Linked DNA regions of Homo sapiens. The protein of the gene in region 2 interacts with the protein of the main gene of each other region in a biochemical or structural test. Each region holds a gene or a part of one and is shown on either strand. Other genes may lie near its edges.

Region 1 (3,424 bases), on a different chromosome or scaffold from region 2:
AGCTAGGCAAGGATGTAGGGAGAGATGGTAAACTGGAGGTGGCTGGCCTGGGGGGCCCAGGGGGAGAAGGGCTCAGAGGTTCCAGCAGAGAAGGGGCAACTTCTAAAAGGACCAGGGACTGGAGGGGCTGGGGCTGGTACCCTCAAGACCTTACCTTAGAGGTGCCCTTGGTGGAGTAATAGAGGCCAGATCGGCGCAAGAAGCAGAAAAAGCGTTTCCAAAGCTTCCGTCCTGAACCCCGCAGCTGCAGAAAGCCCTGGATCTCAGGAAAGCTGCCAGCATTCAGGAAGTTCTGAGCCAGAGGAGAGCAGAGGAGAGTGACAGGTCTGACCTCCTCCCTTCCCCTCTACCACCAGGATGTTTCTCTTTTTCTTTTTCTTTTTGAGACAGGGTCTCATGCTAGTGCGGTGGCACGATCACAGCTCACTGCAACCTCGACCTCCCGAGCTCAAGTGATCCTCCCACCTCAGCCTCCCAAGCACCTGGGACTACAGGCTCATGCCACCATTCCTGGCCTTTTTTTTTTTTTTTTTTTTTTTTTTGGAGAGACGAGGTCTCATTATGTTGCCCAGGCTGGTCTCAAACTCTCAAACTTCTAGGCTTAAGTAATCCTCCCGCCTCAGCCTCCCAAAGTGCTGGGATTATAGGCATGAGCCACCGTGCCCAGCCCACCCTCAGGTTTTTACAAGGAAATGCTCCACATGCATTTCTCGCCCCCATTTAATAGAAGAAACTGATGCTCAGGCAGGGAAAGTGACTGTCCCCAGTCACACAGGACTGTGATTTGGCTCTTTCTACAACATAGAGGGGAGGCACAGGACTTAAGGGTGGAGAAGCACTGGCCAATGCTGGGGAGTCGTGAATCTGCAGTGAAATGGGGGGTCCCCCCACCTGGATGAGGTCTTCATGGGATATACCAGTGTGTGCATCGAGACAGCTGGAGACCATTTTTTCTGGGAACAGGGAGTGCTGTGGGTAGACAAGTGTCAGGGATCAGGGCTCCAGCATCCAGGTTGAGGATCAGGGCATCCCAGCGCCCAGACAGCCCTCATGCACTCACTGGGGAGCTCTTGAACAGTTCGTACTTGGCGAAGTTTTTCCGGAAGACGAAGCGGCTATCTCCGCCCACGGGCCAGGCAGCCTGCACTTCCACCACGGACTCGTGGTCCTCCAAACCCCGCTCTGGGGACAAGGGCAAAAAGCAGGGGTTATTGGAGATCAACCAGATCTCCTGGATGAGCCACATGCCTAGCCCAAGATGCAAGGCATCATCTCCCAGCCCGGATAGTTCCATGCACCTGACTTACCCAGTGCTAGGTGGGGGTGGCACTCCACCAGCCCCCAGGTCTCGTCGCTCAAGGCGTGAGCTCGCTGCACCAGCATTTCACACACGTGGCGAGCTGTGGCACCTGCTGCCACCTCCACAGACCTGCAGGCCCCATCCTCACTGTACACCTTTACTACCTGCGCCCCAGGAATTGCACACGACTTGAGGGGAGGCAAAGGGTGATTCATTCCCTTTCCGCACCTGCTAGACCCTCAGGGACTCCTAACCAAGATCCCCTGCCTCCATGGAAGCGGCTGTGTATCTCCCACAGACCCAGAACCCGTGCATCCCTCCCTTCCCTTCTGAGGGACAACTCACATGGGGGCGGCTGGCATCGCGGGGGAGCAGCCCCCTTGCACTGGAGGGGCCCCCGAGAATTGGGCTCTGTGAGGGAGGACTGCAGAGCTCAGGGAAGGGGTTGGGGATAGAGGGGAGGGAGGTGGCACGCCTCTCCTCCTCTCGAAGTTTCCTGTGGCAAGAAGAAAAAGGGAGAGAGGTGTGGGGAAGGGAGCAGTGGCCTGCAAGCCTCTGTGTATTATCCAGCACTGACCTCCCCCAAGCCCCACGCCCCATCGTACCTGCCGGTGGTTGGGATGAGGAGAGGCTGGGACCTCTTTACCTCCTCAGGCAGAGGGGTATCAGGGGGCCGGGGAGTCCCAGGAGGGGTCCCAGGGGCTGGGCAAAGGTCTTCCGGAGAGCTGCTAAGATGAGGTGGAGACAGATCCAGCTCCATGGCGTCTGAGCAAGAGAGGGGCTTAACGGAACCAGTTGTGTGCCCTTGTCCTGGGGAGAGGGGATGAGAGAATTCAGACCTCCTGACCTCACACGGCGGTTAGGGTGCCCCTCAGAGTTTACCTAGCACCTCACTGCTCTAACTGGAGTTTCCCTGAAGCCCTTGGGGAAGGACAGAATGAGCCTCATTTTACAAAAGGGGACACCGAGTCTCTGAGAAGAAAGCATTCTTGCCCTCAGTCACAGGTGAGTCGGGAGTAGAACCTGTGTTTAGACTCCAAGTCCAGTGCTCTTTCTGTTTTTTTTCTCCTTTTTTTTTTTTTTTTTTGCAGCGGCGTCATCTCCACTCACTGCAACCTCCACCTCCTGGGTTCAAGTAATTCTCGTGCCTTAACCTCCCGAGTAACTGGGATTACAGGTGCCCACCACCACGCCCGTCTAATTTTTGTATTTTTAGTAGAGACAGGGTTTCACCATGTTGGCCAGGCTGGTCTTGAACTCCTGATCCGCCCGCCTTGGCCTCCCAAAGTGCTGGGATTACAGGCGTAAGCCACCACGCCCGGCTCCAGTGCTCTTTCTTTAGCACAAAGTTGCTCACAGGAAGAGCTGAGGGTCCACCCACCACAAGCCTGGTGGTCACAACAGATTTCACAACCCACAGACTCTCAGGCTCAGCCCTCAGGGTCAGGGCAAAGGCCCACTCCTTTGCCTCCACGTGTGGGGCACTCACTGCGCTGGGCTGTGCCCCGGGTTTTTCCAGCACTTTGTTGCCAGACCCAGTTGCCAGAGCCTGTTCATACTTGGCGAGGTTTGGCCTGCCCAAGTGATGAGTGATGCAGAGGGGAGAAGGAGGTGGGGAAGGATGGGAGTCAGAAAGGCAGGAGAGCGGGCTCCGCTGCAGTGCAAGGGGGAGAGCAGGGCCTGGGGTAGGGGTCCTGGCCCCAGCAGCCCCCAAACCTTGCGTACCCTCCCCAGGCCATCCTCCTGCCCAACTCTTTCCTGAAGCCCCAGTGCTAGAGCCACCTCCTCTGAGAAGCCTTCCTGGCCTTCCACATTCAGACTGAATGACTCTCTCTCAGCACTGTGCGGGGGCCGCATCATCCATTACTGTGCACCTGTCCTATCCACCCATTTGTCTGAGGGCACCTGGTACCCCCAGGCAAGGCCAATCTCACCCATGTCTTATCACTTATAGGGGCTGCACAGACACTCAAGACAAGTAAAGACAGGACAGCAGGCAAAGACGAGCACTAGAGGTGGAGGTGGGGCTGGCACCTTCTCCGCAGGAACCCAGCAGACCCCTTTGGCCGGGCTGAGACCTGGGAGAACCTGCAATCCCAGCCCCCAGCCTGTTCTCCAAACACT
Region 2 (3,452 bases):
ACCTTCTATGTGGGGTGGAATCTCAGCAGCTTGGATCCTCTACTGATGATTTCATCCAACCTTTTTCTCTCCTCTAGACTCTCCAGGGCAGTGGTTCTCAACCAGAATTTTTCCACAGGGGCCATTTAGCAACGTCTGGAGACATTTTTGGGTGTGATAGCTGGAGAGTGGGGTGCTGTCTTCTAGCATCCACCAGATCAGGGACACTGCTAAACATCTTGGGCTGCATAGGACAGTCCCTCACAACAAAGCATTATCCAGTCCAAAATGTCAATAGTTCCAGGGTTGAGAACCCCTGCACCCCTGCTCTCGGGCTAAGGAGCCCTTCCTTGGTTTAGTAGGTCTTGGGTGGGGCTAGGGCAGGGGGATGGGGGAAGAGAGAAGCTCCTTCTTGGAGGAGCTGGGGAATGGTGGAGGCAGCCCCTCTGCAACCCACAGAAAGGGTCCCAGGACAGCTTTTCTCTCATTATCATCAACCAAAGGGCTCAAGCACGGTGGCTCATGCCTGTAATCCCAGCTCTTAGGGAGGCAGAGATGTGAGGATAGCTTGAGCCCAGGAGTTTGAGACCTGCCTGAGCAATATAGCGAGACCCTGTTCTCCACAAAAAGGAAAAAAAAAAAAGACCAAAAAAAAAAAATACCAATTGTAACAACTAAAGAAAACAGAAAAAAATACGGAGCCAAATTCTTTATATGTATTATATTTTTCATTAATAAATAGGTTTTCTTCATTAAACACAGAACATATAACAGATTGAAACACTCCCCCCCTCCCCCCAATTCCAAAGACAAGAGTCTATAAAACAAATGCCAGCTGTACTACCCTAAGGGCAGAAAAAGTCTGGTGACCCCCACCCAGCCCTGCCCCTGCAGCACCACCACCCCCACACTCTGCAAGAGAAGGGGGTCTGGGGCTTCTCCCTTGGACCCTGGGGACTTAGGTGAGAAGCATGTGAATGTATGATGTCACCTCTCCATGAGGCATGGGCTATGCAAAGATGAGGTTTCCTTCTCATTGGCTCTGACCAGCTCCTGCACTTCCGATTGCAGTTACGAAGCACCTGGGCTAAGCCCCCAAGGGAGCTGCCGCTCCACTTCCCCACTCTCCGTTGCTGCCTCCTTAGAGGGGAAGGGAAGGGCTCAGGGACCCCTCCCATCCCCTGACCTGCATGGAAACGCTGTGTGGAAGAGGCATGAAGCTGAAGGTGAGGCTGCTGTAGGCCCCCAAGCCCATGAGGCCAGCATGCCCCCCGTCCCCCACAGCTTTCCTTCCTCTGGAGCGGGGGGGGCACTGGGGTAGTCGCCCCCTCCAAAATCTAGTGCCTGGCTTGGGGTATGATGGTTCTCTCTCAGCGTCAGGTCCTCATGCCGGGCCTGGCTCCTTCCTCGCCCCATTCCTGTCTCCTTCCAAGCCCTCACCGTGGCCATCTGAAAAACTCATGTCCAGTGTCCTAAATTGTCTCATCCTCCCTCTCCCCGTGCCTCTGCACCCCAAGGGAGGAAGTAGGGGGTTGTCTCCCCCCTCCAATTTCCACTTCACATAATGGAACAGCTTTTGGCCTTTTCCTTCTTGAAGGTAGAAGAGATGAGTTCAGAGCGACTGGGGAGGTGGAGCAGTCGTTTGGAGAGGCTTCGGACAGGGCTCTTCTGGGGCAGTGGGCTAGGCTTGTTCAGACACAGCATGGATGCCGTCCGAAAGATGCTGTGGATGCTCTTTTCTGAGGTGAAAGCTGAGCCTTCCAGGTAGATTTCTGCACCCAGCTGCTTTGCTATTGCACAACCCTGCAGGAGGGGGTGAGGGCATTAATGCAGTGGGCCAAAATGGCTCTGGGACGCTGCCTCTGTGCGTCACTCCCCAGGGCCACTCCAGAGGGGACCCAGCTGCCAGTCTCCAAACACCACCCTCTGCAGATTATTCGATTATCTTTTCTTTTTTTTTTTTTTTTTTGGCATACACCCTGTCTGATGATGCCTCTTTTTCTTAAGACGATGCCTGACTGCACATTATAAATCATCTGGAATACTCTTAAAACTATATTGATGCCAAACTAAATTAGAATTTCTGGGGATAGCTGGGGCAGTGGCTAGTGCCTCTAATCCCAGCTACTCAGGAGGCTGTGATGGGAGGATCACTTGAGGAGGCCAGGAGTTCAAGACCAGCCTAGGTGGCCGGGCGCGGTGGCTTACACCCATAATCCCAGCGCTTTGGAATTACAAAAATAAATCTCAAAAATAAAGATAATAAAATAATAATAAACACTTTTAAAAAATGTTTAAAAATTCACTGGAAGTGGGCACACAACTATAGTCTCAAATACTAGAGAGGATCCCTTGAGCCCAGGAGTTCTGCACTGTAGTGAGCTAGGATCACACCACTGCACTTCATTCTGGGTGACAGAGTAAGACCCTGTCTCTGGAAAAAAAAAAAAAAAAAAAAGGAAAAGGAAAAAAAAATTCTGGGTATAGAGCCAAGGCATTAGTATTCTTCTTTTTCTTTCTTTTCTTTTTTTTTTTTTTTTGAAACAGTCTCGCTCTGTTGCCCAGGCTGGAGTGCAGTGGCGCGATCTCGGCTCACTGCAAGCTCTGCCTCCCGGGTTCACACCATTCTCCTGCCTCAGCCTCCCGAGTAGCTGGGACTACAGGCACCCGCCAACACGCCTGGCTAATTTTTTGTATTTTTAGTAGAGATGGTGTTTCACCATGTTAGCCAGGATGGTCTTGATCTCCTGACCTTGTGATCTGCCCGCCTCAGCCTCCCAAAGTGCTGGGATTACAGGCGTGAGCCACCGCGCCTGGCCGGTATTAGTATTCTTAAGAGCTCCCCAGGTCAGGTGCAGTGGAGGCCAAGGCAGGTGGATCACCTGAGGTCAGGAGTTCAAGACCAGCCTGGCCAACATGGTGAAACCCCATCTCTACTAAAAATAACAAAAATTAGCTGGGCGTGTTGGCAGGCACCTGTAATCCCAGCTACGCAGGAGGCTGAGGCAGGAGAATCTCTTGAACCCGGGAGGCAGAGGTTGCAGTGAGCTGAGATCGCACCACTGCACTCCAGCCTGGGTGACAAGAGCGAAACTCAGTCCCCCAACCCTATGCTCTCATGCACATAAGAAATTATCCAGGGGTCTTATAAAAAATGCAGATTCCAGGCCAGGTGTGGTGACTCACAACTGTAATCCCAGCACTTTGGGAGGCCAAGGTAGGAGAATCACTTGATGTCAGGAGTTCAAGAACAACCCCGGAAACATACTGAGACCTTGTCTCTACAAAAAATGTTAAAAGATTAGCTAGGCGTGGGGCCCATACCTATAGTCCCAGCTACTAGGGAGACAGGAGGGAGGATCACTTGAGTCCGGGAGGTCAAGGCTGCATAAACAACTATTGTGCCACTGCACTCCAACCTAGGCAGATCACACTTTTTTTTCTTGAAATAGAGTCTCACTCTGTTGCCCAGG

The links. Proteins that work in one complex are often made in the same cells at the same time.
Region 1: the proteins of RND1 (region 2) and GRB7 form a complex in vitro, tested with the Homo sapiens proteins (one study listed by BioGRID).

The regions. Positions count from the first base shown.
Region 1 is NC_000017.11:39,740,938-39,744,361, reverse strand, and holds part of GRB7 (growth factor receptor-bound protein 7), read right to left. Parts: intron 2,111-3,424; coding exon of another isoform or gene 2,061-2,110; coding exon 1,906-2,060; intron 1,797-1,905; coding exon 1,646-1,796; intron 1,465-1,645; coding exon 1,308-1,464; intron 1,183-1,307; coding exon 1,061-1,182; intron 970-1,060; coding exon 892-969; intron 293-891; coding exon 155-292; intron 1-154. UniProt on the Homo sapiens protein: Adapter protein that interacts with the cytoplasmic domain of numerous receptor kinases and modulates down-stream signaling. Promotes activation of down-stream protein kinases, including STAT3, AKT1, MAPK1 and/or MAPK3. Promotes activation of HRAS.
Region 2 is NC_000012.12:48,856,460-48,859,911, forward strand, and holds the end of RND1 (rho-related GTP-binding protein Rho6 precursor), read right to left. Parts: intron 1,783-3,452; coding exon 1,537-1,782; 3' UTR 686-1,536; downstream 1-685. UniProt on the Homo sapiens protein: Lacks intrinsic GTPase activity. Has a low affinity for GDP, and constitutively binds GTP. Controls rearrangements of the actin cytoskeleton. Induces the Rac-dependent neuritic process formation in part by disruption of the cortical actin filaments.